Regions from separate parts of the Homo sapiens genome. Here region 2 is linked to region 1. The links come from fine-mapping of genetic effects on gene expression. A gene starts in region 1. The other region holds a variant in brackets. All regions are shown on one strand. Distances are from middle to middle.

Evidence for each region.
Region 2: its variant is fine-mapped to the expression of ZNF35 in whole blood (TOPMed, PIP 0.99).

What each region holds. Positions count from the first base shown.
Region 1 is chr3:44,645,470-44,650,853 of GRCh38, reverse strand. ZNF35 (zinc finger protein 35) reads right to left here and starts at 2,122. Exons shown (of 4, transcript NM_003420.4): 1 at 2,020-2,122. It overlaps ZNF660-ZNF197 (ZNF660-ZNF197 readthrough), which reads right to left. Exons shown (of 8, transcript NR_147692.2): 8 at 2,383-5,384. ZNF197 (zinc finger protein 197) reads right to left here. Exons shown (of 6, transcript NM_006991.5): 6 at 2,383-5,384. All of the region lies in intron 2 of ZKSCAN7-AS1 (ZKSCAN7 ZNF cluster antisense RNA 1), which reads left to right. RefSeq lists enhancers at 1,640-1,749, 1,830-1,999, 1,878-2,437.
Region 2 is chr3:44,529,967-44,535,350 of GRCh38, reverse strand. No RefSeq gene overlaps it. Among named protein-coding and RNA genes, the nearest start is that of ZNF852, 22 kb to the right of the region's middle. RefSeq lists silencers at 2,180-2,474, 2,366-2,494. The variant C/T (reference allele first, on the strand shown) is at 2,324.

The DNA of each region.
Region 1 (5,384 bases):
TCACCAGCGCCTGGCCAGGGGCCAATGTAGGACATGGAATCCTCTATTCCTCCCTCATAGGATGAAGGGGTTGGACTATAAATATGTAATATCTTCCCATAATAACCACATTGCAAACAGCTTTATATAATGTTTATTGATTTTTTCCTGATTAAAAGTTAACTTACTTTTATTGTAAAAACTTAAAAGCAGCAAATGATTAAGAAAAATCATCTCGGTCTACCTCCAAAGAGATAACCACTATACATTTTAAGATTTAAGATATTTCTTTCAAAGGAAAATCTCCAACCATACTACTAATAATTATGATTTTACAAATTCTTGTTTTTGACTTTGGGGATACATATTTTCACAATTATCATCATAGCATTTTTTAAAAAAGGATTTTACAACAAAAAGATTTTTTATTGCCAAGGATACAAAATAATGTGAACAAAAGGATCCCAAGAAAAAGACTGGGAGTCTTTATACCAACGTGTTAGCAGTGGGTAGTTAACTCTGGATGGTGTAATTACAGGTAGTTTTAAGGTTCTTTTCATTTTTTTTGTTTGATTTTTACATTTTCCATAGCTTCCAAATGTCCTGTGAGATAAAATATTACACTTAAGATTTAAAAAAAGATTACTTTCATGTTGCCATTCTTCATGCTTATTTTAAATGCTACACAATAACCTATGGTGTTGATAAATCTTCACTCTCATTGAAAAAGGATCAAGTAATACAGAAATATATAGAATTAAATATATAACCTACACACACTACACACACACACACACACACACACAAAGTACTTATCAGTTTAGATGGGAGTCCTAACCCATTTTCTCTGCATTTACATACTTATATGTTCACCTTCACACATATTGCTTATTTTTCAAAAACATACTTTAGATCATCACAGTTATATACTGTTCAGCAACCTGCATTGTTTTTTAACTCAATTTCCGTATTTCACAATAGTCTTAACAATCTTTCAATACAACACATATAGAACTACCTCATTCTGGCATAGTATTCTAAATTGTGGCTATATTATCATTTACTTAATCATATTCTATTTATGAACCATTTATTTAGTAAAAGTTTATATTTCCATTTTATTAATATTTAAAAGTTTTTCTTTGTAAATATTTTTTTTTTGCTGAATTATTCCTTTAGAATAATCAGAGAATTACTGGTTCAAGGATTTGCTGGTTGATATGTACTGTCAAATTGCTTTCCAAAAGCACCATGCCAATTCACACCCCCACTAATTGACAGTAACCCTTTATCACAGCTAAGCCAGCAGGGTTTTTGTTTTTAACCTGTGAGCAAAATAACCTTACTAGTTTGATTGCTTATGAAGAGATTGAAATTTTTCTTTCTAACCCCCTTTGAATGTTTTATTGGAAAAGGGTGCGAAATCTTATTCAATCCCCTGTTGCTGCTATTGAAGTGATCATACTCTTTTCCCCATGTCAACTTACTGGCCACTTACTGTATACACTGAATTTATTAAGTAATGCAATACTTTCATTCCTGTGACAAACCTTAATTCTGGAGGACTATTCTTTCCATCACTATCCGAATTCAATCTGGTATGAAGGTCCTTAAGACTAGTTCCACCTTGTGTATAAGACTGCCTACAGTGAGTACTCTCATCAGACTTCTGATCAGATTCTGACGGACCTCCGGTCCCAGACGGCACAGGGCCCTCTATCAAAGGCTCCCTTTCAACGTCCTTTCTCTATTTCCAAACGTGGCAATCCATTCTTTCCACGTATAGGCTCCTCGCGGCCCTGTCCCTGGGACCTATCTGGCCCCTTGGCCGGTCCGTGTGCATCCTCTCCCGGACCAGGCCCCAGGTGGGCAGCAGCCGGGATTCCGAGGCGGTGGGGAACTCACTGCCCCCCGCACCCCGACAGACAAGGCTGGTGTCCCCGGGGAAAGGACGCAGGGGCCGCTCCTAGGGCCATGGCCCCTGGGAGAGCCCCTTTTTCTCCCTCGACGTTCGTGCCCACCCCCTCCGACCCCACTCACTGTGCGCAGCTGAGAAGCCCGACCTGAGTTCACTGGCTCTGCAGCAGGAGGCTGGCTGACCGGTACTTCAGCTTCTACCGGCACGAGAACAATGACCGGACAGGAAGTGCCTCGGGATGGGCTTCCGGCTCCCCAAGTCGCCAAGCCGGCCTCTCTAGGAACCTCGGAGGTGCTTTCCTCTCGATGGGTGTCCAATGTCGCCCCAGACCAGGGATGGGGCAGAAGCGCTTAGGAGGATTGTGCTGTTGGAAGCTCTAAGTGAGCCTCAGGGAGGGGCGCATCCCAAGCAGGGATGAGACACTCAGGCGAGGCGCGCACCCAAGAGCCTGAAGCTACACAGCATTAATCTGTAGAAAGCCCTGATAATTTCCCCTCAAATGTTTTATTTTGAAAATATCAGAGTACAGAAGAGTTGAAAGTATGGCACATTGAATACCCGTATTTTCCATGTGGACTCAACAATGAACATTTTGCTATGTTTGCCTGATCTCTCAATACATATTTAAAATCATTTTTTTGAAAGTTGTAAACATCAGAACACTTCATTCCAAATACTTCAACATGCATCCCTTAAGATTAAGAATATTCTTCAAACTACCACCACCGTCACAGGTAAGAAAATCAACAAAAATTCCCTAATACCATCTAATAACCAGTCATATTCAAATTTCCCAACTGTCCTAAAACATGTATTTTATAACTTTTTTTCAAATCAGTTTCACACACTTTAGTTGGTTACAGCTCTTTAGTTTTGGGTTTTCGTTGCCATTGTTGGTTTTTACTTTTTATTTTGAAATGATAGAATCACAGGAAGTTGCAAAGATAGCACCCTTCACCCACTTTCCCCTCATGGTTACATCTTACATAAAATGAAAAAGGAAATCAACATTGGTACAGTATGTGTGTATAGGTATAGCACCTATAGATTTGTGTAACCACCACTGCAATCAAGATACACAAGTGTTCCATCACCACAAAGACCTTTCTGGTGCTACCTTTTAATAGTTCCATCCAACCCTCTCCCCATTTTTCCTCCCACCATCCCTAACCTTTGGCAACCATTAATCCATTTTTCATCTCTATAGTTTTATCATTTTGAGAATGTTATATGAATATTTTCATACAGAATATGGCCTTTTGTGATTATTTTCACTCAGCATTAATTCCCTTGAAATTTATTTGAGTTGTTATGGATATCAATAAGTCAATTTTATTGCAGAGTAACAAGTATTCCATGGTAATACATAAACCACAATTTGTTTTAACCACCTAAGGAAGGATATATGGGTTGCCTACAGGTTTCGACCATTACAAATAAAGCTGCTATGAACATTCGTATACAGGTTTTTGTGTGAACGCAAGTTTTCATTTCTCTGGGATAAATGCTCAGAAGTGCAATTCCTGAAGCATGACATATACATGTGTGGTTTTACAAGAAACTGCCAAATTATATTCCAGAGTGGCTGTACCATTTTACATTCCCAGCAATGTATGAGATCCTGTTTCTCTTCATCCTTGCCAGCAGTTACCACCATTAAAAAAAAAAAGTTAAGCTATTCTGATAGGTGATATCTCACGATTTTACTCTGCATTTCCCTCATGCCTAATGATGTTGAACATCTTTTCATTTGCTTATTTGCTATCTATACTTCAGTGAAATGTCTGTCTTTTGCTTATTTTCTAATTGTATTTACTTATTACTGTTAAATTTGGAAAGTTCTTTATGTAGTTTACATACAAATCCCTTGTTGGATATGATTTGCAAATATTTTTTCCCAACCTGTAATATCATCTTTGTAAAAAGGTCTCTTACAGGGTAAATTATCTTAATTTTGATGAAGTCCAATTTAACATTTTTTTTCCTTCTAAGGAGCATGCTTTTGAGTCATCTGAGCCTTCTTAGCTCAGTCCTAGGTCCTGAAGTTGTTGGTTTACTGCCTATGGATATCCAATTACTCCAACAGTATTTGCTGAAAAGGCGATCCCTCCTCCATTGAATTGCTTTTGCCCCTGTCAAAAATCAATTGGCCATTTATGTGAGTCTATTTCTGGTTCTTAGTACCTAACGGCTCTCTAGTATTATCTTTTAAAAACAAGCCTCCTCATCCATGTTTTATACCTTTCATATCGAAATTTTCATACATACACAAAAGCAGAGAATGGTATAATAAACTCACAGCAGACTCAAGACAGCTTGAACAATTTTCACTCCCCTCTCTTTTTCATCATAATAATATTTTGAAGAATCCAGGGCAGCTTTCTTATGCAATATTCCACGTTCTGGATGTGTCTGTTTCTCGTGGTGTCTTTTATTTGTTCCTCTGCCTCCTGTATTTCCTGTAACCTGGCAATGAGGTCCAAGAAGCTTGATTAAATTCAGGTTGAACATTTTTCAGCTTATTACATCACAGAAGGTGGCACATTATGTGGGCTGTCTCAATCTAAGCAATGTGACATTTTGTTACTCGGTGAAGAGGTAAATCACAGCATTCTCCATTGTTAAAGTACATATGTCCTTTGTAATTATTATATAAGCTGGGATGATTCAACAACCTGGATGAAACATTTTTATATTCATTATCTCATAAGAACTTTGTGAGGTAGATATTCTTCCTCCTGTTTAACAGATGAGGAATTCAAGGCTCCAAGAACTGAAGAGATTTTTTCTGAGGCAGATGGCAAAACCTGAACCACATCCAGGTCTTAAGACTTTAAGCCTTAGGCCCCTTCCAGTTTTCACTCTTGGCTACCTTTCACTCTAATGAGGAACCAGCCCCCAAGAAACTGTGGGGTTGAATTAATAACATTTATGATAATCAACACACCACTTTGACATTATTAAAAAACACAATCTTCATATTCAGGTATTATTCATAGTCCAGCTACAGAAACAGAACTTTGAGAATTACAACATAAAAATTACCAACTTAAGAATATAGACTGAGTTAAACCCACAAATGTACTCAAGGGCACAGAATGGTTCACAGGGGGTAATGGGCACTGACTGCCCACAAGTGGATTCTGCACTGGCTTAATCAGTGAAGAGCTTGGCTCCATGTGAAAAATTTATGTCCCAGTAAATTTAGTGCTGGGACAGAATGTTGTTTCATTAGTAACAGGCTATCATTTGACAGCAATGATGAAATATTGATTAGAATTCACAATGACTGTGGCAGGGATCATCAGCTCAACTGCGGGTCAAGGATTTTTTTCCCTCTGAATAGGGAAAGCAGGGTACCACTGCCCTTCCATTTTGACACTCTCCATCTGTTAAGTTTCAAATTCAAAAGCTGGGAAATAAATTGTTTTCCTTGGCATCACTGTTAATGGCTGGCCATAACATTTTTTTCCATATACATAAACTA
Region 2 (5,384 bases), 120 kb after region 1:
GGAAGATAGTCTGTGATTTGCAATAACATCATAAGGAAAATAATTTAAAAATATGGGCCCAATATGTTCTTTATTTGGCTCCCCTATGAGTCCTCAAACAGAAGCACCCCTGGGTGGAGTCAAGAGAGGCAACAAAGGAAAGGAGGTTTTGGGTTTGTAGAAATGCCTAAAGTCATCCTGCTCCAGTGCCTGGAGGGCACTGCAGAATCACTGGTGCTGCTGTTAAATCTAGTGCAGATGACAAGTTATGAGAAAGTGTATTTATGTTGCCTTATCTGTTACAGTGATTGTTTGGGGAAACCAGCCCCACACCACCTGCTACCCTGAGTCCAGCGGAGACAAAGGAGTTAGAAAGAGACAGAATAAGCGTTTAAAAAGCAGGTCCAGGGGACCTGAGCATCGGAGGCTTGCTCACAGCCCAGGCTCTGCCTGATTTATTGGTTTACAAGCTCTTTGTTCTTAGGGCAGATGGGAGGGGTAGGAAGGGATGAGGAAAAGGATTAATCAGTGAAGGAGAACTCATGAGTCATTCAATAATATGTGTAGCTGTGGTGGTTTCTGTGAATTTCCTTGAGCAAAGGCATGTGTCTAAACTACTTAAGATCTTTAACTTATCGGGACTGAAATGGGTGGGAGTGGCTTTCAGGAGGGGCCAAGATGTTTGATTATACTCCACTGCTTCAAGGGAGTGTTACCTCCTTGAGCAACTGTGGAATTCTGCTGAGTGGTTATGCTGTCGGGGCATAAAGACATGAAGGCAATAAGAAGACTTTTCTCCTCAGAGGCCGCCCATGGCTCCCCTTGGGTGTCTCACACAGGGAAGACCAACTCAGCTGGCACCGCAGAAACTCTCTTTCCCACAGTGATCAGTATAGCTGCCCAAAAGATACTGTGGATGGAAGGGCCAGCTGCCACATACCCTCCTGATGGAAGTACCGAGTACATTGGCCTGAGACTGGAGTCCTCTCCAATAGCCCACTGTCCAGCCCCTGGCCTTACCAACGCTCAGGACAGATTAGAAATGGACCGTAAGTCAACAGCACCCTCCTTTCCTCAACTTGCCACTTGGGTGGGCATTAGCTCATCCAGAGAATTTGATTTGGCAGATACCATGCTTCTTTTATATCATTTCTTTGCCACCTAATTTGTACTTATGATTGTAGAAATATAAGAAAATATAAAGAAGTAAAAGAAGAAAATAAAAAGAAATTATATTTCAAAGATAACCAGTTAAGCTTTGGTCTTTTTTAAATAGACATTTAAATTAAGGAGTAGTGCTAAAAAAAATACATAGAAGCACATACTTTTTTTCCTTACAAAACCAGATGGTGGGAGAAATGAAGCTCTGCAGGGCATTAGGTCAGATCTTCCTTTCACTTTATTGTAGAGTAGCCTCCACTGCAGGGAGAGAATTCAGCCTGGCACGTCACCTCATGCTATCCAGTGAACCCTGCCCCTCACAGAACACAATTCTGGTCACTCTGGGTGACAGAAGGGGACTTGTAGTCAGTTTCAGCTGCAGAAGGGGTTACTAGCCATGTATAGAACTTTTTTAATTCCAAGAAGTTATGATTTTTAGAATAACTCTAAACAGGCTGGGCGTGGTGGCTCACACTTGTAATCCCAGCATTTTGGGAGGTCAAGGTTGGCAGATCACCTGAGGTCAGGCATTTGAGACCAGCCTGGCCAACATGGTGTAACCTCGTCTCTACTGAAAGTACAAAAATTAGCTGGGCGTGGAGGTGCAGGCTTATAATCCCAGCTACTTGGGAGGCCGAGGCAGGAGAATCACTTGAACCTGGGAGGTGGAGATTGCAGTGAGCTGAGATCATGCCACTGCACTCCAGCCTGGGTGACAGAGCAACACTCCGTCTAAAAAAAAAAAAAAGAATAAACCTAAATATAATCCTAATGTTATACACCTTCCTGTCACCTTCCATCTTGGTGTGCACTTAACACCCCTGAACAGGTTTGACCAGCTCCTTAGAACCATAGTAAAAGACTTTACAATTTGAGAAGGGAACATGAAGAAAAATTTAATCTCATTTATCAAAGTAATACATATTAATCCTGAAAAAATAATTCAGAAATACAGAGGGTAAAAGCAGTCATTCTACTTTTGCATTTAAAAAGTTCTTTGTTGTTTTGGGTTTCCCTAGTATGTTTCTAAGGGGTGTGGGTTGGCTTCACACTCGTCTCTTTCTTTTTGTAGACCCATTTGCCTTATATATTTTAAAGCTGTGCTGATAGGTTCAGGGTGCATGTAAGTTTATGACAAATCATTCAATAGTTACGGAACGGTTGCTGTACACCAGGCACTGTC[C/T]AGGGTCCTGAAAAGAGTCAAGAACAGGATAGAACAGGCTAGAAGCGCCATCTAGTGGATGGTACTTGTTTTATACAAAATTTAGCCGGGTGTGGTGGCGCACGCCTGTAATCCCAGCTACTTGGGAGGCTGAGGCAGGAGAATTGCTTGAACGCTGAAGGCGGAGGTTGCAGTGAGCCGAGATCGCACCACTGCACTCCAGCCAGGGCGACAGAGCAAGACTCCGTCTCAAAAAAACAAAAAAGAAATAAATTGGACTATTTGAAGGAGAATCCTTAGTGTTCCCCCCTACCCCCATTTGCTCTCGCTGTCTCTGAGACAGGGTCTCACTCTGTCGCCCAGGCTGGAGTGAAGTGGTGTGATCATAGCTCACTGCATCCTTGACCTCCTGGGCTCAAGCTGTCTTCCCTCCTCAGCTTTCTGAGTAGCTGGGACTATAGGTGTGTGTCACCACGTCCAGCTGATTTTTATATTGTTTTTTTGTAGAGACAGGGGTCTCACTATGTTGCCCAGGCTGGTCTCAAACTTCTGGCCTCAAGTAATCCTCCTGCCTCAGCCTCCCAAAGTGCTGGGATTACAGGCACGAGCCACCGTGCCCAGCCTCTCAGTTCTCTGTTTTCATCATAATTCAACATTTCACAGATTAGTGTTAGTAGTCTATGTCATAAGAAGTTTATTTATAAAGGTAACAAATAGGTTGAAAGATAATTACAGTAATTCTTATGCTCCTATATTAACAAGTATTGAAAAACTTCACCCTCCTTTCTTAGGGGGTGCCATTTAAACTAACAGATGAATTTTAAAGGACTGCTATACCCCTGAAGGTGTGAGAAAGGAGCATTCTATGCAGTGGGAAAAGTTGCTGCAAAGGCTCAAGATGTAACTGATTGGGCTGATCAGGTGACAGAAGGGAGGCCACTGTGCCTGGATGAGAGTCACAGTGTCAGAGGTGCAGTCAGAGTTGGGCAGAGGCCTGCCTGCGGAAGACCATGTTGGCCAGGTTAACCAATTTGAAGTTGCTTGGGGGAGATTAATTTCAGTGTCAGGAGGCCAGTTAGAGCACCATTGCAGGACTACATTTGAGAGAAGATGGTGGCCAGGACTAGGGATGATGTGCTGTGGAGATGGAAAGAAATGGGTGGATTTACAATGCATTTTGGAAGAAGAATAAACTGGACTTGCTGATGTTTTAGATGTGAGAGGGTGGAGAATTAAGAGCAACTTCTAGACTGGGCGTGGTGGTTCATGCCTGTAATCCCAGCACTTTGGGAGGCTGAGGCAGATGGATCACTTGAGGTCAGGAGTTTGAGACCAGCCTGGCCAACATGGTGAAACCTTGTCTCTACTAAAAATACAAAATTAGCCAGGCATGGTGGTGTATGCCTGTAATCCCAGTTACTTGGGAGGCTGAGACAGGAGAATCGCTTGAACTCAGGAGGCAGAGGAGGTTGCAGTGAGCCGAGATTGTGCCATTGCACTCTAGCCTGGGCAACAAGAGGGAAACTCCATCTCAAAAAAAAAGAAAAAAAGAGTAACTTCTAGGTTTCCTGACTTGGACATTGTTCGACAACTTAGGGATTGATTATTGGTTTTTTATCAATATGAAATATTCCATTCTATGCCCATTAAATGCTTAGCCTTAGAGTCTGTTTTGTCTCATATTAATAATTCTACACAGCTTTTTCTCTTGTTGTTAGAACTTGCTTGGTGTACCCTTTTTCCTTCCTTTCTTTTCAACCTTTTCTATTGTTTGGTTTTATTGTAGGTAAATCTCTTGTAAAAAGTCTCCTCCCTTCTCTGTCTCCCTCCTTCCTTTTAATGAGGAAACATAACATGTTTGTATACATTGTGATTAAGGATAGACTTGGACTTTGTAACACTATATTAGTGTCTTTTATGGCCCATGCTTTCTCTCCTATATTCCTCCTTGTCTGCTCTTTGGTGCAGTAAAAATTGAGTGGAAAAACCAGAAACAGGGAGACTTAGAAGGCTTACACCCGTAGGCACACTGGGTCTTTCTAGAGTCACCTTCATCTTTTCTGGGCCCACCTCACATGCAGAGCTTTCTGGTTTAAGACACAGCGAGATAGCTCCCTCTTCATGGCCTGTACCCACTCCCCATTGAAAGCATTGTTTCTCATTCTTTCAAAGACTGTGTTCCTTTCAAATTTTTTTTTTTTTTTTTTTTTTTTCCTGAGACAGCCTTACTCTGCCACCCAGGCTGGAGTACAGTGGTGCAATCTAGGCTCACTGCAAACTCTGCCTCCCAGGTTCAAGCAATTCCCTGCCTCAGCCTCCTGAATAGCTAATTTTTGTATTTTTAGTAGAGACAGGTTTTCACCATGTTGGCCAGGCTCGTCTCGAATTCCTGTCCTCAGGTGATCCACCTGCCTCAGCCTCCCAAAGTGTTAGGATTACAGTCATGAGTCACCACGCCTGGCCTTGAATGTTCTTATTTCCATCCCTTGCCCCCATTTAATTATTGGGCCTCCCAGTCCAACAGAGAATCACTCCTCTTGTCCTGTATTAGAAATGAAATATTCTGATGAAGGATCCGGGAAGACTGACTCCTGCTCTGCCAGTCCCACTTCCTCCATGCTGAATTCCCAAAGGAGATCCATGCAAGGAACAGTAGCCTGTTAGGAAATGGAACTTACCAACTGTATCTCATCATTACTGAGTTGGTGCCTGTTTCCCTAATTCAGGCCCTCTGCTGAAGATGAGTTTGATGACATGACTCTTGGATGACCATAATTTATTGTCCAAACTGGGAAACTCTGTAGAATAAAAATGAGTGAAAGAAAGGGTCTGCCATTAATAATCATACCAAGAAACCATGAAGATCAGTATATGCTGTCCTGCTTTTTAGATCAGACTCAAGCAAGACTTCTACTGCCCTCTGGAGGCTGCAACCAAATCTCAGGCTATTACCCTCTGCCCTGTCCCATAGCAGAAGAACAAAGTCACAAAAAGAGAGGGCAATGAAGGTCCCAGCTTTAAAAGAAACATTTATCATGTCCACTAAATAAGGTTGGCCAGCTAATGTCTGGGACTCTGACTC